Regions from separate parts of the Homo sapiens genome. Here all the other regions are linked to region 1. Evidence: fine-mapped expression QTL. A gene starts in region 1. Each other region holds a variant in brackets. All regions are shown on one strand. Distances are between the middles of the regions.

Region 1 (5,127 bases):
TCCACGCCCTCAAGCTTGGTCTTCAACATCACCTGTCAACAAGCTCTCTTTTCACTACTTAAAAACCACAGCTCCCTCCCTCTCCCACACTATACTTTCTATTTTGTTTCTTTACCTCTCTTTCCTTTTTCTGTGGCCTGCATTACCTGGCTGTGTATGTATGTATGTGTGTATGTGTGTGTATGTATAAGTGTGTATGTGTGTGTATGTGCATGTGTGTGCATGTATGTGTGCATGTGTATGTGTGTGCATGTGTGTATGCATGCATGTGTGTATGTATATGTGCATATGTGCATGTATGCACGTATAAGTGTGTATGTATGCATGTGTGTATGTATGTGTATGTATGTGTGCGTGTATGTATGCACACATGTATGCATGTGTGTATGTGCATGTATGTATGCGTGCATGTATGTATGCACACATGCATGCATGTGTGTATGTATGCATGTGTATATATGCATGTGTGTGTATGTGTGTATGTGCATGCATGTGTGTATGTCTGCATGTGTGTATGTGTATATGTGTGTGTGTATTCCATAGCATGTTGCCCTCTGACATGCTGTGCATTTTTCTTGTTTATTGTATTATTATTCATGGCCTCACTTCCCCACCAGGATCCTTGTTTACGTTGCTCATTGATACATCCCAAGTACCTGGAACAGTGTCTGGTATATCGCGGATGTTTAGTAAGTCTTGAGAGGCTCACTGAGTGAACAGTGTTAATTTTCATGGTTTAAAACTTTATATAAATGGTACCATACTCGCTGCCGTACTTGCTGTCGTACTCGCTGCCGTACTGTGCACTTGCATTTTTGCTCCGCGTTCTGTTTTTGGCATTTATCCACATTGATCCATGTAGCTCTCATTTATTTTAACTGCCATGTGGTATTTCGCTGTATATGCCCATTTCTTTATCGCTTCTCCCCGTGTTGGATATTCAGGGTGTGTCCGGTGCTTTGGACACACAGTGTTGTGAGGAATATTCTGTACGCATCTTCTAGCACATGCATACTTCTTGTGGTAGTTTCTCTCTCACAGTGGATGGCCTATTAGAATGACTAGGGAATTCTTAGCTATTAGTTTGTTCCCAGAAGTTCTGGTTCAATTGATCTGGTCTGGGTTCAGTGCTGCAGAAATGTTTTTTCTTTTAAAGACATTCCTGGATGACTTTAACGACAGCCGGGGTTGAGAACCACGGCTCCTGGCTCGAAGGAGCAGATCTATGTTTGTGTTCTTGGGCATATCTAGAAAGAGATATGCTTTCTTTCTGGCTTGTCATCTACTTGCTTCAATTTTCCTAAAGGTTGCTTTCAAAGTGGTGGCACCATGCGTGATCCCAGCGGTGAATGCAGATTCCCACGTTTTCATTAACATTCTTTAAGTTGTTTGACCCTTGGGGTTTTCTGATAGGATGAGGGTGAAACGCATCCTCTTGTTCCCACAGCGTTCCCCTAATTCCGGGGGCTGAGTTTATTGATCGTTCAAGCATCTTCTTTTGTGACGGGACCGCTGATGTCCTTGACTCAAAGATGTTAAAAATACGTTTAGAAGGATCTTTATTTTTTCCTGCTGCTGTACGAGGCACCCTTTCTGGCCCCGTGTTTCCTTGCCCTTCTTTCCAGCAGCAGATTTTACTCAGAACAACTTCAGTGCTGTGGACACAAAGACGCAGGCCTTGGAGAGGCGGGTCAGCCCTGCCTCGGGGCTGCTGAGTGAGGTGCCAGATGCGTTTGTTCCTCATTTACTCATTTGCGTTTGTTCCTCATTTACTCGTTCCTCGCAGACTGGGTTGTAACACCATGTACCACCCTCTGAACCCAGAGATCAAGGGCTGGCTGGCCCTGTAGCCCCAAGGAGCTCCGTCACCGGCCAATGGGGAGGCGAACCCGTGGTGACCCACTCAGCGGCACCGCCAAGGGCTGAGCGTGGCGCCAGCGGCGGAAGGCCCGGGGTCACCGTCCCAGGCCGGGGCTCCGACCCCGAGTCCGCAGGGTCCTCTCCAGGCACCTTCCATCTGGGGTCTGGCTTCCACTCCCGGCCGCGGCGTCCTGATTTCCAGAAACCAGGCGGCCGCTGGAGGGGAGAAGGGGGAGCGGGCGCAGCGGGGGAGGGAGGAGAAGAAACGCCGGAGAAGGGAGAGTAGAGCGAGGAAGGACGCGAGGCGGGCGGAGCGCGGGGAGGTGCAGGGGGCGGGGAAGGGGCGGCGCCGCGAGGGCGGCTCCTGGCGGCGGGACTGTGGCTGTGGCCCCGGGAGAGCCGGGTGGGGCCTCGGGATGCAGCCGCCGGTGCCCGGGCCCCTGGGCCTGCTGGACCCCGCAGGTGAGCGCGGGGCTGGGGGCTCGTCTCGGCTCCTGCGGGGGAGCGTGGGGACCCCGGGGCTGGGACTACAGGTCCCCGGCCGGCCCGGGCGGAACCTGCGCGGAGACGCGGCACGGGGTCTGGTCCCTCCGCCTCCTTCGAGCTCTGTCTTTGGAACACTTTGCATTTCGCACTGGGGTCGGGCGTTCGTCCTACCGGTTCGTTCATTCATTCTCTCTCCCTGTCTCTCTCTCTGTCTCTGTCTCTGTCTCTCTCGCTCTTTCTGTCTCTGCCTCCTCAGTCTTTGCCTTTCTCTGACTCTGTGTCCGTTCCTCTTGGCCTCTCTCTCCCTGTTACGTTTTATTATGAGGAACAGGCGCCCCAAAGTGCGCTCCTTCCCCATCTCTTCCGTTTATTCCAACCTACACCATTTTCCGGGAAAACTTCGTTTGGAAGAGCGAGGTAGCCTTTTCCTGTTTGAACGTGCAGAGGCGCTCACAGAACTGGACAGTGTTGCTTGGTTTCGGCTCGCCCCTCTCTCGTGTTTCTCCCCGGTGTGTTCACGGAATCTCCAATTCTTCCACTTCCCAGACCAAGCCCGCTGCAGCCTCGGAGCCAGGCAAAGGCTGGGAAAACAGGAAACCTGTTGCGTGTTCACCAGTTCGCAAGCCGGGCTCGGGGGCTCTGCCGGGAAGTGGCCAGGACTGGAAGGATGCCGGGTGTCTTCCTGAGGGGGAGAGGGCTGGGCAGATTTCAGAACAAAAGAGAAACAGAGTTCCCTAGAAAGTGAAGCCCTGACGGCTGGAGGGAGGGATGGAGTGGTGTCTAGGGGGCTCTGCCGCTCCCTCAGAAATAATCCAACACAAACTTCTGGGGATTAACCTCACAACCCTTTTACTGCGGCATCGTTCGGAACCGGACGAATTACTGTTACTTAAAATAATCAAATAATTTGGCTTCTTTCTAAAAGAAACCACTATATGCCTTCCAATCTAAAGCAAAATGCTCTATGGTCAAATGTATTAATGTGGATTAGTCTATTGGTGTTTAATAATGATAACTATTATTATTATTTATTAACTAGTTTTATCATTATTAGAATGCCTTAATGTTTAAAAATAGCATCTGACTTAGATTTTCTTCTGACAAAGAACTTTAAACCTTAAAACAATACTTGGAGCTGGTCTTTTTAGTATATGAAACATTGGTGTATCTGGGTAGGATTATGGGTCTTTTTGTTTGGAGCTGGTCTTTTACTAAAATGTATAAAGCATTGGTGTGTCTGGGGTTGGATTATGGTCTTTCTGCTTTGGTGTGTCGGGGTGGATTATGGTCTTTCTGCTTTGGGGTATCTGGGGGTGGGTTATGGTCTTTCTGCTTTGGGGTATCTGGGGGTGGATTATGGTCTTTCTGCTTTGGGGTATCTGGGGGTGGATTATGGTCTTTCTGCTTTGGTGTGTCTGGGGGTGGATTATGGTCTTTCTGCTTTGGGGTATCGGGGGTGGGTTATGGTCTTTCTGCTTTGGGGTATCTGGGGGTGGATTATGGTCTTTCTGCTTTGGTGTGCCTGGGGGTGGATTATGGTCTTTCTGCTTTGGTGTGTCTGGGGGTGGGTTATGGTCTTTCTGCTTTGGTGTGTCTGGAGGTAGATTGTGGGTTTTTCTGCTTTGGGGTATCTGGGGGTGGACCATAGTCTTTCTGCTTTGGGGTACCTGGGGGTAGGATTATGGGTTTTTCTGCTTTGCCCTTCTTTGTTCACTACCCTGGGCATGTGTAAAATCAGGACGAAAGAGGAATTGACGGCTGAGTGATTACAGTTTTACCTGGGATTGTTACTTGGACACCATGACTGGTGTCCCCACATGATTAAATGGAACTCACTCTTCTTTTTGGGCGTTCCAGGTCCGGCTGGCAGGAAGGCCGGATCTTAGAACCCTTCCAAGCAGTGCCACCTCCCATGCTTTGTGACATTCCCCTTCCTGGCTCTGTGGAGTAGAGGAAATGGGTCTGAGGGGCAGGAAGAACCTGACCTCCAGCCTCGCGTGTCTTCCAGGTAGGACCTGGCGTGGGCACAGGCTCATGTGGTTCAGCTCCTCCAGCTAAGGCTGGGGAAGGAGCCAGGAAGGGGAGAGCAGGTGGGATGGGAGAAGTGGGGGCTGGTGGGGAGTGACAAGGTGATATTCTGAGATATCCTAGATGGGCTGCACCTGGGGAAGACTAGAATTAGAAAAATCAGCGCACTTGATAGCAGAGAGGTAGCTGTTGGCCCCTTCAGCTTCACATCTCAGAACTCCTCCTTGCAACTCCAGTGGGAGAAATGCTGGTTAAGAATAGCCGCTACGCCGTCTTAAAGTTCACACCACCCTGATGATTAGCATATGCATTCCATTTACAAAAACCTATATGAGAGCCCACGTATCGTGTCTCACTGGACGCTTATCACAATCTCAAGAGGTGGGTGAGCAGGTGGTTCTCATGATTTCCATCCTACAGGTCAGGAGACTGAAGTGCCTTCATTCATTCCGTACCAGGAGATGTGTCTATGTCCTCATCTGAGCCCCGGGAACCGGCGACAAACAAGAGACAGAGCTCTTGGCTCTCATAGGGTTCTCTTCTCCCAGGCTCAGGGAGATTAAATGGCCGCCCAAGACCACACAATGGGTCTGGACAGACCCAGAATGGTTTGGGTCCAGTCCCTGTAAGCTGCCTCTGCAATAGAAACCTATTGGTAGATATTTTAATTAATAGTTGGGGCACTTAGGAGCACTTTAATTTTCACAGTGCGTGTAATAACAGTATTTCCGGGACAGGAAAAAAAAAAAAATC
Region 2 (5,000 bases), 100 kb before region 1:
CCTGTCCCCCGGGGACCTACGCTCGTGACGGCAGGGGTCTCTGTTCCCCCGCTGTGGGTCCTGTGGGTCTGCTCTGGGGCCCGTGGTGCACAGTGGAGATGTGGGCGGTGCGTGTCTCCCCAGTGGCTGCTGACCCACTCTGTGGCGAGTCTCAGCTCCACCAGGCGGCTCAGCCCTGCCTCCCGGGTAGGAGCCCGAGGTTGGCCAGGCTGGGCCCAGGCTCGGGAGGGCCATGCTCCCTGCACTTCCTGGGCCCCCGCTTGCACCACGGTGTTCAGGGCACGCTGCAGTGCACAGGGGAGGGGTTGGGAGGTGACTGAGAGTCCCATTCCCGCCAGCTCCTGGGGCCGGCCGGGTGCAGCTCACTCTGCCTCTCCTGCACCTGCACCCGTCCCCCAATTAGTAAGAATAACGTGTCCTATTCCTTTTGTTTTTGTCATTTCACTTGAGTTGTGTTTTCCTGGGGCCCTAAGACTTTCTTATCCCAAACGGAGGCCATGTCTACCGGCCAGGCAGTGAGACCATTCCAGAAGGTTCTCTGTGGCCCTGCAGCCAGGAGGCGGCACATGGGAGTCTCAGCATCTAGAATGGCCCAAAAGATGGGGCTTCCAAGGACCTGGCCGGCAGCCCCCAGCCCAGCCCCCGCCCTCAGCTCCTTCCCCATCCTGGCCTCCCGCTCTGCCGCCCCGCCTGGCCCAGGAGGCCCTTCTGCCCCCGGTCCCTGCCTCTCTAGGAACGGGGTATTTGTTCTACTTCAAATGCGCCCATGACTCCAGCTGGCTCTGGTGCCCTTTGAGACCGTGGAGCCTCCAGCGGGGGCTGCAGCCTTCACCAGCACTGTGGTGAGTGTGGGGGATTTGGCAGCGTGTCACGGGCATTCCCAGCACGTCTCAGCTACACACACAGGTGGGGCGGGCCTGGGGCTTTGCATTCCCACCTCGGCTCTGGGACCCCCAGAGCCGGGCACCGTGGGAATTGAGGAGGGCCTGACCTTCCCTGGGAGCCGGGGACGGCACCAGGCCAGCCAGTTCAGCCGCATCCCGACGCCCAGGGGTCGCAGGGGGAGGTGGGGGCGCACAGGTGCTTCCTCCAGACTCTCTCATAAGGGGTGAGGGCGTTTCCCGGAACGGGTGTGGCAGCCCTGATGTAGACGCAGACGCTTCCACCACCTGTGTGGCCTTGGAGGCCCAGGCATCTGCTTTCCTCCCAGGAGGGCCAGGCTGCCCGCGCCTCTGTGCAGCCACGGGGACAGGACCCTGCAGGGCAGACCTCGCACAAGGCGCAGGTGCTGCAGGCTGAGGCAGGCCTGGTTTACTCCCCACCTCCGCATCTGGACGCCAGCGGGTGTCCCGGAAAGGGGCTGGCAGCCGCGTCTCGGCAGAGCCCCTTATTCAGGTCATTGCGTGAATCTGTGTGACCAAGGAATCACCGTTGCCACCTTTCACGTTATTTTCAAAATGATTCACTTTAGAAACATACTTTTAAAATGCTGTTCTCAGACATACGGCTGACATTTGGGGCCAGTCTGTGGACGCCCTCCACCGGCGTTCTGCAGCTGGGGCTCCAGGTCAACTCAGCCTTCAGGATGCTCTGGGGACCCTCGCTTTCCCTGGGAGGCAAGTGAGGCCCTGGCCGAAGCCCGTCCACGCCATCCAGGCAGCATCGGGGTCTCACTGTCAGGGGCCCTCTGCTCCCCTCCTCCTGAGCTCACCTGGAGGCTGCGTCCTCAGAGCGGCCCCCTCCATGCACCCAGCCGGCCCGCCCCCCGCACGTACCCCACCGGGACAGGGTGCGGCCCAGCATCTGCCCCGTGTCCGGGTTCCAGCAGTAACGCTGGAACTCCTCCATGCGCTGGCCACACGTCTTCTTCTCCTGCAGAGCCGCCATCGTCCCTGGCCTGAGATCCTCCCGTCTGCTCCCTGCACCCTCTACGCCCAGACTGAGGCCAGATGCCCACCTCTGGGCTTTATAGTTTCCTCTGCCAGAGGTCAAAGGCATCGCAGGCGAAGGATCCCAGGGAGAGGCCAGGGCCGTTTATCAGCGCCGGCCATCGCCTCACCAAACACCAGGGGCTGGGTGCAGCCCGGCTGTTGCCCCTGGGGCGGGCCAGGCCCGCTTTCCTCACCCTGCTGCTCTTGGGACGCCCTTGGCTGCAGCTTTGTCTGCTCTGATTGCGGTGAGGGCACGTTCCGGGGTGAGCAGCACTCACAGGCCCTTCCCCTTCCCTCCTCTCCTTCAGGAGGGAGATTGAGGTCAGAGCAGAGCCGGCCTGGACCCACTGTGTCCACGACCTTGGGCTGAGCCAGCTGGGGCCGCATCCCTGGCCTGGGAGGGCGTGAGGCAGGCGAGTGAGGGGCGACCGGCTCCCTGGGCCCCCCGCTGCGGCCGCCCCGATTCTGGGTCACCCAGTGGAAGGGTGAGCCTGGCAGCTGGAGCTGGGTTGGCAGGGAACACAGGGGTCCCCGGGGACTCCTCTGCCTCCCAGATTCACCCAGAGCAGCAATAGCCTCTTAGATCCCCAGAGGGCAGTGGCACCGAGGGCCCTTTAGGATTTTTTTGTGTCCATGGAGGAATTCATAAACACAAACCCCTAAATCTAGTGGTCCTCAAAATGAAGTGCACAGGAGCCCTGAGCATCTGTTGAATGCAGATTCAGCCCAGCGAGTCCTGTGGGGGCCCCAGACTGCATTTCTAACAGTGCTGGTGGGAGGGAGTAAGGCAGGGTCCAGGTGGGGGATGCTCAGCCTGGGCAGTACCTCGGGGTCACCGGGGGTCCGGGCAGTGCACTGGGGTCACAGGGCCGGGGCAGGGACCATGAAGTCATCACTGCCCACTTCCGCCCGGAGATTCTGCCTGAGCCTCTCGCCCATGGGTCCGAGCACCAGGACGTGGAGGGCTCCCAGGCAGTCTTGTTGGGCGGCGCACTTCAGAACCCCGGCTCAGA[C/G]GCTTTGCTGTTGGAGACAGGGGTCCTGGATGGCAGATGCCATTGCTGCCTGCTGGCTGCAGTGCCCATCTCTGCAGGAGGTTGATGGGAATGCAGGGCAAATGAAATGTGCTCAGGGGCCTTCTGACAAATATGATTCGAAGTCGACTAGCCCTGTGTGTCCAGAATTACATGCAGAGTTTCCCATACTGTCAACTCTAGGCCGTCCCTCTCAGGGACCCGTGTAACCAAATTCATTTCTTAGAAGAAACAAAATTCCTCTAGGCATTACGCTGCTTTAATTTTTTAGGATAATTTAGAGTTTGCAAAATAATTGCCCTAAAATTCAAATGGAATGATGTCATTTTAGCCTGGATTCCTATCATTTCTTTTCTTTTTTTTAATTTCTAATTTTTATTTCTTTTATTTTTTTGTAGAGATGGGGTCTCCCTATGTTGCCCAGACTGGTTTAGAACTCCTGAGTTCAAGGGATCCTCCCACCTCGGCCTCCCAAAGTGTTAGGATTACAAGCGTGAGCCCCTGCGCCCAGCCATAATTTCTTAATGGACCTATCCTTCCTTTAACATTGTACCCATTTCTGACTTTGGAATGTTAGGGCGATAAGAACACAGGGTCTGGCAGTAAAGGCCACAGTCTGATTGTTCACAGACTGTGGCCCTGGGACCCCAGAGTGCCAGGGGTCTGACAACACCTGGATGCAGCAACTGTTGTCTGTGAAGGGTATAGATGCTCTTGAAATGAACAAAGTATGAATTATTTCTAAACATCTTTGAATTTAGTCTTCCTAATGTAGTCTCTGAATTTCCAGAAGCAGGTACATGTGCTGAGCTGTACACATGTTATCAGAATGACCTTCTTCTGGACACATACGTGTGGGGAGGAGGGCCAGAGACCTTGGTAGAGGGCAGTTTCCCCACAGCATGCTCTGAAAACATAGAACTAGGTGCTCTATACAAATTGGGTGCCAGACAATGAGGGGGGCCCAGAATCCCACCCACATCTGGCAGCCACCGGTCACCCCTCTCTCCCCCCATCTGAGTGGTGTCAGACACAACGTAGTAGAAAGTTAGGACTGTGACCACCACACAGTGACAAGGCCACCTCCCACTGTGGTGTCAGTGGAGACCATATGGAAAGCCAGGACTGCTACCCACCCACCCAACAGTCCTCAGGAGCCCACCCAAAGGTTCCCAGTGGGAAACCTAGACTTCTGGCCCCACATGGTGTTAACAAGGTGAAGCCTCTCCCTTTTGCTGCTGAAGTGGGGTCAGAGAAAGCCAGTAAAAAGAGAAGGATTAAATAATATGAAAACGTCTGGGTTTCAGTAGATAACCACTCATCACACAAAGAACGAGGACGATTTTAAGATGAATTAATACAAAGCTGGGTGTTTTGGCTCATGCCTGTTATCCCAGAGCTTTGGGAGGCTGGACTGAGAGGATCGTTTTAGACCAGGAGTTCCAGACCAGCCTGGGCATCTCTGCTAAAAAATTAAAAAATTCTAAAAATGAATTTAAAAAGACAATATATGCCAACACCAAGGTGACAGAGATGTTAGGATTAGCTGCCAAAAATTTTAAAGCAGCCATGATAAAAATGCTTGAATAGCAATTACAAACAAGCCTGAAACAAATGAAAAACTAGAAAGCTGCAAAATATGGAAAGCAAACTGATAGAACTAAAAGTAGACATAAACACATCCACAATTATAGTTGGAGATCTCAACACTCCTCTCTTAACAATTGATAGAACAACCAAATAGAAAATTAGCATGGATACGGAAGAACTCAACATCATCAACCAACAGGATGTCATTGACATTCGCAGAATACTCAACAGAGAATACACATTCTCTTTAAGTCCCCATGAAATATATATCAAGATAAGCTGTATCTTGGGCCATAAAGGAAGTCTTAGCAAATTTAAAGAATTCAAATCATACAGAGTATGTTCTCCAATCACAATGGAATCAAATTAGATATTAATAACAAAGATAACAGAAAAACCTCCAAATATGAAACCTGAACAACATACTTCTAATACTCATGAGTCAAAA
Region 3 (5,127 bases), 51 kb after region 1:
TGGGGGGTGGTCCTCCCCGTCACACGCGGGCTTACGGGACGTGGGGGGCACAGGGGCAGATCCACTTCATCCCCATGGTGCTCCATCCTCATCCACCCTGGGGCTCTGGGTTTACGCAAAGGGTGGATGTTCCCCTCTTCCTCTGGGGAGGCCTGGGGCCCTCAGATGGCCCAGCCAGCCTTTGTGCCAGGCCAGCATGTGTGGGAGCTTAATATACGCACGCTGATAATTGGATTTCAGAGATGGCAAATCAGATGAGGCTCATGTGCTCCTCAGAAGAACAATGGAGGAGGGGCCCTGCTTCCACAGAGATGGAGAGAAAATATTCAGGGTGTTCCATGGAAGTCGTTAGCAGCAGAAAATACTCCCACTTGAGACAGTGGGGGATGGGGAACAGTGACTTGGTGGGGGAGGTTTTGAGCAGTTAATAAAAAGGACAATTTAAAGAGATCACCTTCCTTGCACCCAGCAGCTTTGCCAGGCATGAAGTGCAGGGGAGGACGTGGCATCACAGCAGAAGATGAGTTCCTGCCCCGTTACTAAGAAACATGCCCTCCCTTCCCCTGTGAGATTACTCGTGGGCAGGGCTTGTCCCTAGGGGGGCCCTGTCATTCAGTGGTTAACCCCGTGGTCCCAGGGTTTACTCTGTGGTTCCTGGGGGTTTATTCCATGGTTCCTGGCGGTTTACTCCATGTTCCTGGGGGTTTACTTTGTGGTCCTGGGGGGTTTACTCCATGGTTCCTGGGGTGTTTACTCCGTGGTTCCTGGGAGTTTACTCCATGGTTCCAGGGGTATTTATTCCGTGGTTCCTGGGTGGTTACTCTGTGATTCCTGAGGGTTTAACTCTGTGGTTACTGGGGGTTTACTTCGTGGCTCCTAGGGGTTTGTTCTGTGGTTCCTGGGGGTTTACTCCGTGGTTCTTTGGGGTTTAACTCTGTGGTTTCTGGCGGTGTAACTCTGTGGTTCCTGGGGGGGGGGTTACTCCATGTTTCCTGGGGGTTTACTCCGTGGTTCCTGGGGGTTTACTCCTTGGTTCTTGGGGATTTATGCTGTGGTTCCTGGGGGTTTGCTCCATGGTTCCTGGGGGTTTACTCTGTGGTTCTTGGGGATTTATGCTGTGGTTTCTGGGGGTTTACCTCTGTGGTTCCTGGGGAGATTACTCTGGTTCCTGGGGCTTTACTCCATGGTTCCTCGGGGTTTACTCTGTGGTTTTTGGGGGGAGGTTATGCTGTGTTTCCTGGGGGTTTACTCTGTGGTTCCTGGGGGTTTACTCCATGGTTCCCGGGGGCTTAACTCTGTGGTTCCTGGGGGGAGGGGTTACTCTGTGGTTCCTGGGAGTTTACTCTGTGGTTCCTGGATGTTTACTCCATGGTCCTGGGGGTTTACTCCATGGTTCTTGGGGATTTATGCTGTGGTTCCTGGGGGTTTACTCTGTGGTTCCTGGGGGTTTAACTCTGGTTCCTGGGGGTTTACTCTGTGGTTCCTGGGGGTTTACTCCATGGTTCCCGGGGGTTTAACTCTGTGGTTCCTGGGGGGAGGGGTTACTCTGTGGTTCCTGGGAGTTTACTCTGTGGTTCCTGGATGTTTACTCCATGGTTCTTGGGGATTTATGCTGTGGTTCCTGGGGGTTTACTCTGTGGTTCCTGGGGGTTTAACTCTGGTTCCTGGGGGTTTACTCTGTGGTTCCTGGGGGTTTACTCCATGGTTCCCGGGGGTTTAACTCTGTGGTTCCTGGGGGGAGGGGTTACTCTGTGGTTCCTGGGGGGAGGGGTTTACTCCGTGGTTCCTGAGAGTTTACTCCATGGTTCCTGGGGGTTTACTCCGTGGTTCCTGAGTTTTACTCCGTGGTTCCTGGGGGTTTACTCCGTGGTTCCTGAGTTTTACTCCATGGTTCACTCGGTGGTTCCTAGGGAGTTACTCCATGGGTTCCTGGGGTTTATCTGTGGTCCTGGGGTTTACCCCTTAGTTTCCTTAACTGCTCATCTGCTGTGAAGAAGAGTGGGTGCTACAGAGTTGGAAGTTGGGAGCTCCCAGCAGACTTGAGAGAATGTTCCCTAGTGTCTCACTCTGTCGCCTGTGGCCAGAAACCTGTGTGAGTTTCGGGGGAAGAAAGAAATGAGGTTGGCAGGTGTCCCTGAACCACTGGATCCCATGAGCCTGGGCTGTCAACCTCAACATTGCAGTCCCTCTGAGGAAGGGCCCCATTCTCAGCCTTACCTACACCTGTGCAGAAATTCTGCTGTCAGGATCCAGAGGTCCTGCTAGCTCCCAGGGCGTCTGCAGTGCAGAGCTCTCCAGGGAGAGGCTCAGACAGGCAGCTGGCTTCTCTGGGGATGCTGAACACGCAGGCTCAGACAGGCAGCTGGCTTCTCATGGGACCCTGCAGGCTGGGGCAAGAGGAGCACAGAGCACATCTGGTAGCTTGGAGTTTGAAAAACTCTTCCTGTGTTATTTCTTAGAAGGAGTTTGTTTGCTTTATTTATTTAAAATTTGATTAGAAGTTCCCCCTAGAATTTAAGGGGAAAAAAAGAAAAGAATTAAGATGTGTGTTAGCAGTTGGAGAAAAACTAGAATGTATCAATTTAAAATCTGTGCCGTTCTTCGCTTTTCTGGTCTCAGAATTACTTGGGTGGGTCTATGTGTGTTAGTCAGGGCTCTCTAGGGAAGCAGAGCCTATGGGAGAATACAGGTACCTACATATGAAGAGAGAGATCAATCCATCGATTCTGAATGACTGGCTGATGACTGTGGGCTTCAGGTGCACAACCACAGGGAGGGGGCAGGCTGGAGACCAGGGAGGGTGACGCTGCCCCGGGAGTGCCTAGGCCACTGGGGCAGAGTCCACTTCTCCTGGGGACCACAGCCTCTTTCCTTAA[C/T]GCCTTCAGTGGAGAGGAGGGGCCGTCCGTGTCCAGGGGCTGAGGCACTGTACGCAAGGGTGTCAATCACACCTGAAGATGCCTCCACGGCAACACCCAGATGCGTGTGTGAGCCGCTGAGTCAGCCACGGTGACACTGAACCAGCCACACGCTGCTGGACGTGTGGACGTGTGGGGTTCATACGTGGGGCCTTTCCCAAATATGAAGAGTTGGGTGAGCCCAGGGGCCCCAGGCCTGGTGGACCCTAACTGTTGGTTTTGGAGTCAGGTCAGAGGCTCGCTGGCTGTGAGGAAGTGGGATGTGGTCTGAGGACACCCTTCCTGGGGCGTCCACCCCCTGCCCCATGCAGCTGTGGAGGCCAAGGTTGTGCCAGTGAGGCCCCGGCCACCCTCTCCTGTTCTGCCCCGGGCTGGGGCTGCTCCTTCTGGTGGCCCTGGGTCTGTGGGGTGGGGGCCCGTGAGAGTGGTCCTGGGTCTGTGGGGTGGGGGCCAGTGAGAGAGGTCCTGGATCTGTGGGGGGGGCCGGTGAGAGAGGTCCTGGGTCTGTGGGGTGGGGGCCCGTGACAGTGGTCCTGGGTCTGTGGGGGCCCGTGAGAGTGGGCCTGGGCCTGTGGGGGGGCCGGTGAGAGTGGTCCTGGGTCTGTGGGGTGGGGGCCGGTGAGAGAGGTCCTGGGTCTGCGGTGGGGGAGGGGGACGTAAGAGTGGCCCTGGGTCTCCGGGGGAGGGGAGGGGCGTGAGAGTGGCCCTGGGTCTGTGGGAGCCCGTGTGAATAGCCCTGGGTCTGTGGGGGGCCCGTGTGAATAGCCCTGGGTCTGCGGGGGGCCCTGTGTGAGTGGCCCTAGGTCTGAGGGGGCCTGTGTGAATAGCCCTGGGTCTGCGGGGGGCCCATGTGAATGGCCCTGAGTCTGCGGGTGGCCCTGGGTTGGCGGGGTGGGTGGGGAGCGTGTGAGTGGCCCTGGTATATGTCAGGCTTCCCTGTGGTCCGGCACGGGGTGGTCTCACCTGCTAACCCAGGGCCCTCTCTGTTTATTGCAGCCCTGCAGCCGCTTCCCAGTTGCGCCCTCCTCTGCCCTGGCTTCGTCTGAGGACCTGCAGCCCCCTTCTCCAAGCAGCTCTGGCTCTGGGCTTCCCGGCCAGGCTCCACCGTGCTACGCACCCACCTACTTTCCCCCGGGGGAGAAGCCACCCCCCTACGCACCCTGATAGAGGCGTGGAGTAAAAGATAACTTGTTTGTTTTTTTTTTTAAAAAAAAGGCAGCCTCTAGAAATCCCGCTTCTGTGGCCAACCTCCTAGAGAACCCGGGAGAATGTTCCAGAAGTCTGTCCCCTCCTTTCCTCCCTGGGCACACTGGTGAGGGAGGCTGGAACCAGGCAGGGAGTGGGGCCCTCCAGACCCAGGCTGGTGACACCTTGGCTTGGGCTCTGCTCACATCAAATGGCGCTGAAAGTTCCCACCCGGCCTCCTCCTCTGAGAGCAATTGTTCTGGTGTTTTCACATCCCTTAATTAATTAGCTATTATTATGATTTTGCAAAGACAGTGCAGCCCCGGCCTCCCTGCCTGTGTGTTCTTGTTTGTGGACATGTGTTGTGCGTTACACGTTCGTGTGTGCATCTGTGTCCTGGAGAAGCGCAGGGCAGAAGCCACCCGCCCCTCGTGCTGTGCTCCTGACGTATGCCAGGAAGGGAAGGACGCTTCGGCTCCAACGCCCAGCGCTGTGTCTAACCGCCTGTGAGTTGTTAGAATCCAGGGGCCCGGTTGTCTTTCCCAGCCCCGGATGCAAATCTGCCTGGGCCACTGGCACGAGGGTCTTCCCCTGAGCTGTCTCCCAGCTACGGCGCCTGGGCTTCCGCTGTCCTTCCGCGGCTTCTCCCTCACCGCACCTTGTCTCAGGACCCCTGGCCGCTGGGATGGTGGGGGACGGTGTTTCGGGGTCCTTTGGCTCAGGGTCTGGGGCCGCAGCACTCCCTGTGGAAACCAGCTTAGCTCCCCGCGGGCCCAGCATGCACCTGCCGGGCACACCTGGGGAGACGGGTGAGCACGCCTGGGAAGCAGCAGGTCCCGGGTGGGTCACAGGCCCCGGGTGGGTCACAGGACAGGTCTCAGGTGGGTCACAGGTCCTGAGTGGGTCACAGGTCCCGGGTGGGTCACAGGCATCCCGGGTGGGTCACAGGTCCCGAGTGGGTCACAGGCCCCGGGTGAGTCACAGGCCCCGGGTGAGTCACGGGTCCCGGGTGGGTCACGGGTCCCGG
Region 4 (5,127 bases), 34 kb after region 1:
CAGGTTCCTGGCTCCATGGCATTCATGAGGGGTTACTGGGTTGGAAGGTGAACATCTAGGGCCAGCACATCCTGGCAGAGTCTCTGCTGCACGCATTTACGGTGAGAGACCCAGCAGAGCCTGGATGAGTCACCTGCCACCCACTTCTGAAAGTGGCCGGGGCATCTAGCGGGTGGCACCTGCCGGCCGCCGAGCCGGACAGGGACGCTGGATCCTCCTGGGATGGCTTCGGCTCCCACTAGGCAGATGTGGGCTTCCTAACGTTGGGCAGCCCCAACGAATCTGGGGGACCACACTGGTCACACACCCCTCAGGGATCTGTGGGAGCGACGTCGTGTGGACAGATGTCCCCTTGGGGACACCAGTGGCTCTGAGGGTGGTGACTCAACCAGGAGCAGGGAAGGGGTGCTTGTGCTCCTGAGCTGAGGCGCTGTCTGAGCGAAAGATGTTTAGAGCCCCAAGTCCTTAGAGCCGCACCTGCAAAATGCAAATTGTGATGATGATGTCACAGTTGTGCGGATTAGAAGGATGGGTCGAGCGAAAGAACTTTGGAAGCTTTAAAGTGATTTTCTTCATCTTTAAGTCTTTTTTCCTTCTGCCTCTTTGGTTGGGAATTGTGCCCAACAGAAACTGTGGGAGTTCTTAAGGAGCGTGTGCAGTGGTGACGGGACCACGGCCCCTCTGCGTGCTTGCATCTAATGCTGGAAGCATGTCTGCAGGCATGATGGGATGTGACGCCGCTCTCCCTGCAATGCTAGAGCGAGGCACGCAGCCCCCTGATCCAGGCCGGCACCCACGAGAAGGGTGCACTGCGGGACAGGAACATCCCCCGGAACTGCGGGAGGCCCCAGAGCTGGGGACGCGGCCCCGCTGGAGGCCGGCTTTCATCTTCCTCTGGGAAGGTGGAGGGGCTTGGCCCCGACTGGGAAACCTCAAATGTTGCCCTCTGAGCCGTCTGTGTGTGTTTTTATGTATTTGTTCAAACAATTACATTTTTAATGTATTTTACGTATTTATACCTAACTGAATGTAGGAAATTTCAGTTAGGTGTAATTTCTGCCCGCTGTTTTTACACAGCTCTGCATAATAGTCATTTTACTTTTATGCAGCAGTTTCATCAGGAAAATAGGAAGGTGAAGGAAGTCTCTTGCCTTCGGCCACACAACCTTGGCATTGACGACCTTCTGACCGTAACATGGTGGCTGCAGCTCACCCCTAGCCCTGCACATCGTGGCCTCTGCCCCACCTCAGTGGGCCCCAGTCCCACCGACGTGCAGCCCCCAGCACCTTCCCTGTCTCCCCTTGAGGAAATTCTGTTTATTCTTCCAGGACTCGTTCAGGCCTTCCTTCTTTCTCAGGGTGCAATGAGGCCTTCCTTGTGTGTGCACCCAGAGCCCTGGCTTATGCTTTGCTATGGTGGCCGTCAGACGGGGTCAGCTGTTCAAGAGGGAACCTCCCTCATCTGTCTGTTCCTCCAGCACACTGGGCAGCTACACCATGCGATGGGCTCCGTCATTATTTAGTCAGTCGAACCAGAGCAATTAGGCAGAAGAGGAGATTTTTAAATTGCCACAGCCTGTAGAAAGTCCAAATAGAAGTAAGCTTTTGGTTCAGACCCAGGCTAATGCAGCCATGGTTTTCTGCACAGCTTTCTTCTGGGAGCATCTCAACTTTCTTTTAGGCAATCGATGATAAAATGCCAGAAACGTGAGACGCGGGAAGGGCGGGGAGGTGCCTGTTTTGCTCATGTCTGCGCCTGCAGCACCAGGCTGCGTATCCCGTGGGGACGCTGGAGCGTCCGTGACACTCATGAATAAGTCAGTGAACCCAGCACCTCCCTTTCCAGAGGGGGAACCAAGGACCACTAGGGGCAAGTCCAGCCCAGCAGTTCAGAGAACGCTCTGGAAGGACTCAGCTTGCCAGCTCTGCTCTGCTCTGCCTGGGGAGGTGGAGGGGGGATGCGAGGGTAAGGGCTCCGGTCCAAGGCCACCCCGAGAACCCTTGTGCTGCCCTTGGGTCTGGTGGCCACGTCCCCCTCTGCCCCCTCGCACAGCCACTGGGAGACAGAGCTCAGGGGTGTCGGCCAGCTTCCTGCTAACTGCCCGGACTTTGTTCAGACCTACCTCTTCTCGTAAACCTAAAGTATGTATTTTGGAAGGGCACGTGCTTGATGTCTGAGCTCTCAGAATGTCTCGTCTGATCTGCTGTGGAGGAAAGTTGCCTTAGAAGAAGGTGCCAGCAGGTGGGAGAACCATCTCTCTGTAACTCACGCAGGGACCGTGCCGGTCTGGGACCCACCTGAGAAGAAAGGTGCCAGCAGGTGGGAGAACCATCTCTCTGTGACTCACGCAGGGACCGTGCCGGTCTGGGACCCACCCAAGGACGCACTGACTTCTGTGGACTCGCTCTCCGGCCCGCTGCCCCAGCCCT[A/G]CCGCCTCATCACTCACATTTAATGCAAGGTGGCATCGGTGACTGCCAAGCGTGGGCTCACCAGGAAGCCCCCAGTTGACAGCTCTTCCTCTGCTGAAGGATAAAAACACCCAGACTCGCAGTGAGGGTGCCCACTGTTTAAAAAAGAAGCTGCACTTTCCTCCGCAAAAGGGCTTGGCCAGCAGCGTGGTGCGCCCTGGACCGGCTCTGATGGGGCTTCCAGGGAGGACCCCCAGCGGGCCTGTGGTGTGGAGGGTCAGAAGGAGAGGGAGGGGCAGGCGGCCACCACTGGTCCATGGCCTGAAAGGTTTGGGCCCGCCAGCCCCCACCCCCCGCCTTCTGCTGCTGTGGGGCCTGATGGGAATGCGTCCCACCTGCGAATCCAGCGGGTAGCGTTAGAGCCTTGGCAGATGGGCTGGATTTGGCTTCTCTTTGGGTTGCGGGTGACGATAGGTGTGCAGCCTGGGGCAGAGATGGACACACAGGGCCATGCTGACATCGGGGGAAGAGGCCACAGCAGTTCCACGTGAGGGTCACGGTCGATGGAACTCCTCTCTCCACATACTTGGCTCCCCAGGGAGAAGGAAGGTCGGGGTGCCTCTGCCGGGCGTCTTTGCAAGTGTGAGGAGGAGACCACTCTGCTCGGTCGGCTCTGCTCTGAGTCTGGACGAGCACCCACGCTCGTGCCTGGTGCGCAGGACAGGTCCGAACAGACTCAGGCTTCCCCTGTCCCTGTGTAGCACCATGTGCCCGAGCCACAGGCCCTCCCTCTGCTGTTACCGATGGGTTCTGCTTGTCACTGGGACCTCTTTCCCGAGCCGACAACTCATCCATCGGGACGGAACCAAGCGAGATGCCAACTCGGGGCCACAGTTTTCAGCGGCCATTCAGGAGGGTCTGCTCTGCCCAGCGTGGTACCAAGCCAGGCACCGAGAAAAGAATGACAGCACCCGCCCTCTGGTCAGGGGTCCACGGGGATGGAGACTCCCTGCTAGTTTTTAGGGTTAGGGCAGGACACCCCGCTTTATAGCAGAGTTTGTAGTGGCAAGAAATTGCCAACTGTTTAACTATCCATCAGAGTGCACTGGTTAACTAACGCACTATAAACCATTCCTGGCTCCAAGCTCCAAGACCATTAGGTAGGAAAAGCAGGTTGTGCGACAGTGTGTGAAGCTGATCCGATGACTGTAAAGGCCTGTGTCAAGCATGCACATGTGTGTGCGTGTGATGAGCACACATTAGGGTTGGGCACACGCCCTGCCGTCTGGGGTTGCTTCTCAGAGGCGCGTGCCGAGGGCCCGGGGATGGCAACGCCCTTCCGTGCAGAAGGCGCCTGGGTGGGTCTTGCGGAATAGACGCGTGAGGACGACCCGCAGGGTGGAGTCCGGCCTGGCCAGGGCTGGAAGTCATAGGACGAAAGGTAGAGGTGAGAAGAGGCAGTTCTGTGAAAGAAGCCCCGACCTCGAGCTGGGACTTTGAATTGGTTTGCGTTTGAAAACCGGGGTTGGTAAAAGCTGGGCACCCACACCTCTCCTTCTGTTGCAGCTGGTGGCAGCGATCGTGTTTATCAGTTTTGGCGTGGTGGCCGCCTTCTGCTGCGCCATCGTGGACGGCGTATTTGCAGCACAGCACATTGTGAGTACATTGTCATTGTGTGCACAGTCGCTTTCCGGGGCTGAAAGAGTCGACGTGAAAAAAGTACAATTTCATTTTGCAGATCTCAGCTCAGACGGCTTCACCGTCAGTCTCCACGCTGGGGGTTGCCAGTGACTGTCTCTCCTCTCAGTAAGTCTCATTTCCTACACAACGAACTTCCCTCTCCACACAGACTACACACACCACACAACACACAGAGCACACAGCACACACCACAACAGAGCACAGAGCACACACACCACAACAGAGCACACAGCACACAACACACAGAGCACACAGCACACACACAACACAGCACACACCACACAACACACAGAGCACACAGCACACACACCACAACAGAGCACACAGCACACACCACACACCACACAACACACAGAGCACACAGCACACACACAACAGAGCACACAGCACACAACACACAGAGCACACAGCACACACACCAAAACAGAGCACATAGCACACACCACACAACACACAGAGCACACAGCACACACACAACAGAGCACACAGCACACACACAACAGAGCACACAGCACACACACCAAAACAGAGCACATAGCACACACCACACAACACACAGAGCACACAGCACACACACCATAAGAGTACACAGCACACAACACACAGAGCACACAGCACACACACAACACAGCACACAGCACACACCACACAACACACAGAGCACACAGCACATACACAACAGAGCACACAGCACACACACAACAGAGCACACAGCACACAACACACAGAGCACACAGCACACACACCATAACAGAGCACACAGCACACAACACACAGAGCACACAGCACACACACAACAGAGCACACAGCACACACCACACAACACACAGAGCACACAGCACACAACACACAGAGCACACAGCACACACACAACAGAGCACATAGCACACACCACACAACACACAGAGCACACAGCACACAACACACAGAGCACACAGCACACACACAACAGAGCACATAGCACACACCACAGAGTACACACCTCACACACCACACAGAGCACACGCCTCACACACC
Region 5 (5,127 bases), 150 kb after region 1:
CTCTGGCAGGAGGACGGACATTCGCAGCTTTGGACTCATTTTCTTCCAAATATGAACACTTTCAAAGACAGGGATCTGCCAATGACTTTACCAGGAGGGCCTTGCCGGAGCTGTCACTGCTGTGGCATGCAAGAAAGCAAGAGTCCTCCAGGAAGCCGGCCAAGAGGCGCCTTCTCTTAGGCCAAACATGGGCAACATGAGAATAAGAATACACAAAATCAGGAGAACTAACAGGAGGCTGTGAGGAACTCACCCCAAATAATGAGGAAGCTGGAGAATAAGACCAGCCTGGTCCAACTAATGGCTGCTCCGTTGGAGGCACAGGAGTGCAGAGGCAGCGAGGCCTGCAGAAGACCCCTCGCTGCGCTGGGCGGCAACTCCAGTGAAAAGCTGCTAATCAAACACAACTGAATTCACACTATTTTAAAAATAAGTCTGTAAAGGCAAAACAGGTTAATAGTATTTTGACACTAAGCTTGTAGTTATAACAGATACTTTAAAAGGTCAATCCCAGTTACCACGGTGACTGCAGCTCAGGCACCGCAGAAGTGCGTGAGGATGAGAGTGAGGGAGCCGCAGCCTGGAAGGGTGGGTCCCAAAGTCTCACTGGCTGATAGGGTTTGGCTGTGTCCCCACCCAAATCTCACCTTGAATTGTAGGTTCCATAATCCCCACGTGTTGTGGGAGGGACCTGGTGGGAGGTAATTGAATTATAGGGGCGGGTTTCTCCCGTGCTGTTGTTGTGATAGTGAATAAGTCTCACACAATCCGATGGTTTTATAAAGGGCAGTTCCCCTGCATACACTCTGTCACCTGCCGCCCTGTAAGATGTGTCTTTGCTCCTCCTTTGCCTTCCACCATGATTGTGAGGCCTCCCCAGCCATGTGGAACTGTGAGTCCATTAAACCTCTTTTTCTTTATAAATTACCCAGTCTCGTTTAGGTCTTTCTTAGCAGTGTGAGAATGGACTAATACACTGGCAAATACCAGGGACAACTGTGGTGGTTGTTGTAACAAGAAGGATGACAGTCTCTGCCTACTGAGCACACAGTGTGCCGGATGCTGCAGCGCATGTGGGCAGAGAGGCCTCACTCTGTCTCACAGCGACCCCATGAGGCAGGTGTCACTGCCTCAAGCTACAAATAAAGAAACCGAGGCTTGAGAAGAATCAGTGACCTGTAGGAGATCACGCAGTTAATAAGCAATCAGGGCCGTGTTTGCAACCCAGACAGAACTTTCAAGCCCTTATCAGCAACATGGAAATAAATAACTCAAAGGTTAATTCCAGAAAGTTTCCTTACTCAAAGCGCATCTTGGCATTGATTTCACAGGCAGCAAGCCTCATCCCAAGCAATGCTAAAAGGTTTCATCACCCCAGCCCCATCCCCAGGCATCTGCTTGTCAGGCTTTAAGGTGATAAAGAAAGAGGAAGGATCATAAAAACACCCACGAAGAAATACAAGGGGGCTATCTAACTATTTTGGAATTAATCCCCTAGACTTTTGGAATGAGGATACATTGAGGAAAAGGTTATGGCAAGTTTGAGTCTGTCACCAACCTGCATCCGAGCCCCAGCAGGCCCTTCAGGTAACAAATCAAAGGCCTGTGTCCTGGTTCTTGCCCCTGCAGTCCTGGCCAACACTTTCTCTTAAGCGGCACCCACTGACCGGCTGCCTGGCAGCCTCCTCACCTTCCCTCTTCACTTGCTACATCTGATCCTTCAACAAGGCAGGAGTCCTGCGTCTACAGGCTTCTCCAGGAGCGATCTCTCTGTCAGGCTAATTAAACGGCAGCTACTCCCCAGGACAGTCCTGGAATCCTTGCTGAATCGTGGAAGCTCCAGGCAACCACAATACCCAGAATCTTTCCGTCACAGTTTAAGCCAGAGGTAGGGTCCCAGCAGGGGCCACTCGACCTTGCAGGAAAGCTCCCACATCCTACCCACGGGATGTTCTGGACCCCACTTCTGTTGTTGAGGTGAGGCTTTATTTTACTTCAAAAGTGTAGTACTTAGAAAAAAGTCAAGATAGTTGTATCTAGGAAGTAAAGATTCGTTTAATAAATTATTCAAAACTTCAGTATATCCTATTGCAATAATACTGAAACCAACTAAGAGAAAGGATGACGATACCCATCAAAGGGAAGTTAAGACCATCTTCTTAAGTAAATCAGAACCGGTGCCTGCACAGAATGAGCTGCTAAAAGAGATTTAAAAGCAATGAAAACACACAGATACGACCTGCCGTGTTCGTAATGTGCAGCCCAAGTGCGATTTCATATGACAGTTTCCCAAATTGCACCCTTCTGTGTGCAGATTTCAAAGTTTTGCCATATCCATGTGCTCTGAATTATTGTCTACCTAGGGCATCTTCAATAGACTCATTAAATACATTTAAATGTAAAATATGTTTACATTTAAATACATTTAAATACATCTGTGTGAGATTGAAGGTCCATTGTGCTGCCTGGTTTTTTCTACAGCACACTAAAATAAATTAGTAACTATTTTAAAAAATATCCATCCAGGTACCACCTAGAGCCCTGTCATATCCCCTCTGATCATCACCCACTGGCACTGGGTGTGACACCTTCCCCATGGGAACATGGCAGGACAACCCAGGAGGAGTCAGAGGACAGTGGGGGTCAGAACAGAGTGGGCAGCGCTGTGCGCAGTCCCCCGCCGGACGGCAGTGTCCTGAAATGTCAGCATGCTGGCATTTTATCCTACTCCTTTTATTAGGGAGCCTGAAATTTAAAAACATAGGCAGGCCC[T/C]GCTTATCAACACGGGTAATTTCCTATCTCGAGTGCATTCTCACTGAAGCAGGCCTTCCTATGATGTGTCCTAGGGAGATGGGCGTCACAGTTTGGGTTAACACTGAAAAACGTAAGGACAGTATAAAGATTTGAGTAGTAACCAAGATGGCACTCTTTAAACTTCAAACAATGTTTTTACAATTAATTTTTTTCTAATTATAAAAGTAATCCGTGTAGATTGCAGACCATTTGAAAAATACAGGAAAACACAAAGAAGGAAATAAAATTTATGCAGAGATAACCACTACTATGAAGTGGGCACTGAGTTCCATTAGGAAAAATTCCTAGGGGAGGAATTAGGGAATCAAATATTGAGTTTTCCTGTCAAGGGTGGTGCCAAGCTCTTCTGGTTGGCCACACATAGCCGACATGCCAGGCCAGCCTGCACCCTCCATCCCTCCACACACATCCAGAGCCGGGGGCCCAGGTGGCCTCTCCCACAGCTAAGGCTCAGCAGAGCCAAGGGTGGCTGCCAGGCCCGCTGGTGCCCTCTGCATGCATCTCTGCCTCTTGGGAATGGGCCAGGACTGCAGAGTGGGAGAGCGCTCAGGAAGGCTTGGTGGAGACAAACTGGCAAAGTGTTTTTAATGCTGCAAAACCAAATATATGCAAGAAAGCTGTAAAAATTGGAGGAAGATGACATTCAAAGGGATTCTGCCCTCAGATCACCATGACAGCATCTTTAATTCTTGCCTTAATTTAAGGAAATAAAGCGTAAAACCATGAGTGATGAATTATAAGATTTTTAAAATTTCTTTTCTTTTTGCCAGGAAAAAACAAATTCAAAGAGCAGACCTCACAGAGATGTTCTCACAAGAATCAAATCAATTCAGACTCATATATTTTAAGTTAAAAGGAAGCATTTGAGATGTATATGTATCATTGTCAATTTCCTGCTTTACCTGATTTTTTCACTTATTTGAAAATATTTCAACAAATAAAAGGGCTCCTAAGTGTTCAGCATGTTTCTGCATCTAGTCACCTGCTTTTTCATGTCCCTTAGTGGAGTTTTATATTTCTGTTTGCTTTACAAATGTGTACATGGTGGGTTTTATATTTTTATGCTCTCAGACTTACCGGTCCTCCCATCTCTGGTTTCTGCCTTTGGTATCATGCTGACATCTCTCAACTGACCCAATTTTTTCCTATAGTTCCTTACAAAATTTGTTGTTTCTTCAATATAAATTTTGTACTCATCTCTTGGCCTAACAAGTCCTGGGTATTTAAGATGCTGGGTTGTTATTTCGAACAGGCTCCCCCTCACTCTTGCTTGCGAGGTGGTTATTGCTAGCATCTGGGAATGCTATTGGATTTCTATATTGATTTTACTCACCATCATTGTAATTTCCTCTCTTAATTTTACTAACTTTGAGTCCATCCTTTGGGGTGTTTGGGAAAGTTTTTTGGCTTGAAGTTCTGACTCTGGAATCAGCCAGACCTGCGTTTGCATTCCAGGAGTAGCATCTGTAAGACGTAAGCCTTGGGCAGGTCCCGATTCTCTGCAAAATGTGTGTGGAATGAGACAGAGTGGCTGGAAAATGTATACAGGGCCTGGCACAAAGAGACGCTTGGATGTGTCATCTGCAGGTGGTGATAGTTTCTTTTTCTTTCTTTCAAATACTGCACACTTTGTTTATTTGCTGATTGCTCTTGCTGCACTGGTAGAGCTTCTAGAGGACCTGTGGCTACAGACGGTCTCCTGCTGCAGCCCTGAGCTGGAGAAGCCCCCTGTTTTTGGGCTGAGGGTGCGGGTGTTTCACGTTCAGGGTCAGGAGGCTCCTCTCAATTTGTGCATGGTGCAGACGTCCCTGTGGTCTTCTTTGATAGATTTGGGGAGCCTGAGTTGCTTCTGTGGCTGAAGAAGTTCTCAAGTCCCGGTAGGAGGAAGCCAGGGAGCCTTTCGGTGCTTCGTGGATTGGATATGCCATTAAATACCTTACAGGGACTGCGCTTGGCTGAAGTCCAGGTGGTTTCTGGGACAGCTGGGCTCAGGGCAGGGTCCTGTCGGGCTCCCTGGGTGTCAGCGGCACCTGCCCCTGCAGGTGCTGCTCTTTGAGCCTCCCCACCCCCACTTCTGCTCCCACCGGGAGGATCTGCTGGCCTGGTGGGGCCCAGGAATGCAGAAGACTTTCCTCCTCCTCCCCCACCTTTCTTCTCTCTTGGTTATCTCTAAGTCTAAAGGGTTGTGGAAATGTGTTGGGCAAAAACAGATGGGAAGCCTCCAGGGAGAGGCAGCCTGTCTTCAGCAGGGAGATTCATGGCTTTCGATGTACAGCCAGGAGGGTGAATAAAAGCTGGCACGTAGAACACATT

Alleles and levels. Alleles are on the strand shown, and positions count from the first base shown. SD is a standard deviation of normalised expression in the study named. Not every link is listed here.
With allele C in place of G in region 2, the expression in prefrontal cortex of the gene that starts at base 2,233 in region 1 is lower (moderate effect, 0.41 SD a copy in ROSMAP).
With allele A in place of G in region 4, the expression in minor salivary gland of the gene that starts at base 2,233 in region 1 is higher (small effect, 0.30 SD a copy in GTEx).

What was found. PIP is the estimated chance that this variant, and not a neighbour inherited with it, causes the effect. A credible set is the group of variants that fine-mapping cannot tell apart.
Region 2: its variant is the best candidate, but not a certain one, in a credible set for the expression of TMEM255B in prefrontal cortex (ROSMAP, PIP 0.62).
Region 3: its variant is the best candidate, but not a certain one, in a credible set for the expression of TMEM255B in fibroblasts (GTEx, PIP 0.59).
Region 4: its variant is the best candidate, but not a certain one, in a credible set for the expression of TMEM255B in minor salivary gland (GTEx, PIP 0.76).
Region 5: its variant is the best candidate, but not a certain one, in a credible set for the expression of TMEM255B in fibroblasts (GTEx, PIP 0.67).

Annotation. Positions count from the first base shown.
Region 1 is chr13:113,756,994-113,762,120 of GRCh38, forward strand. TMEM255B (transmembrane protein 255B) reads left to right here and starts at 2,233. Exons shown (of 9, transcript NM_182614.4): 1 at 2,233-2,322. The coding sequence starts at 2,277. RefSeq lists enhancers at 1,393-1,894, 2,451-2,952.
Region 2 is chr13:113,656,258-113,661,257 of GRCh38, forward strand. It overlaps ATP4B (ATPase H+/K+ transporting subunit beta), which reads right to left and starts at 1,941. Exons shown (of 7, transcript NM_000705.4): 1 at 1,776-1,941. The coding sequence starts at 1,887. It also overlaps a transcript of GRK1 not described here. RefSeq lists an enhancer at 1,260-1,760. The variant C/G (reference allele first, on the strand shown) is at 2,945.
Region 3 is chr13:113,807,825-113,812,951 of GRCh38, forward strand. TMEM255B (transmembrane protein 255B) reads left to right here. Exons shown (of 9, transcript NM_182614.4): 9 at 3,912-5,127. The coding sequence ends at 4,079. Among named protein-coding and RNA genes, the nearest start is that of GAS6-AS1, 5.2 kb to the right of the region's middle. The variant C/T (reference allele first, on the strand shown) is at 2,877.
Region 4 is chr13:113,791,173-113,796,299 of GRCh38, forward strand. TMEM255B (transmembrane protein 255B) reads left to right here. Exons shown (of 9, transcript NM_182614.4): 4 at 3,976-4,065. Among named protein-coding and RNA genes, the nearest start is that of GAS6-AS1, 22 kb to the right of the region's middle. The variant A/G (reference allele first, on the strand shown) is at 2,431.
Region 5 is chr13:113,903,485-113,908,611 of GRCh38, forward strand. The region is part of intron 3 of LINC00452 (long intergenic non-protein coding RNA 452); the gene reads left to right. Among named protein-coding and RNA genes, the nearest start is that of LINC00452, 11 kb to the left of the region's middle. The variant T/C (reference allele first, on the strand shown) is at 2,773.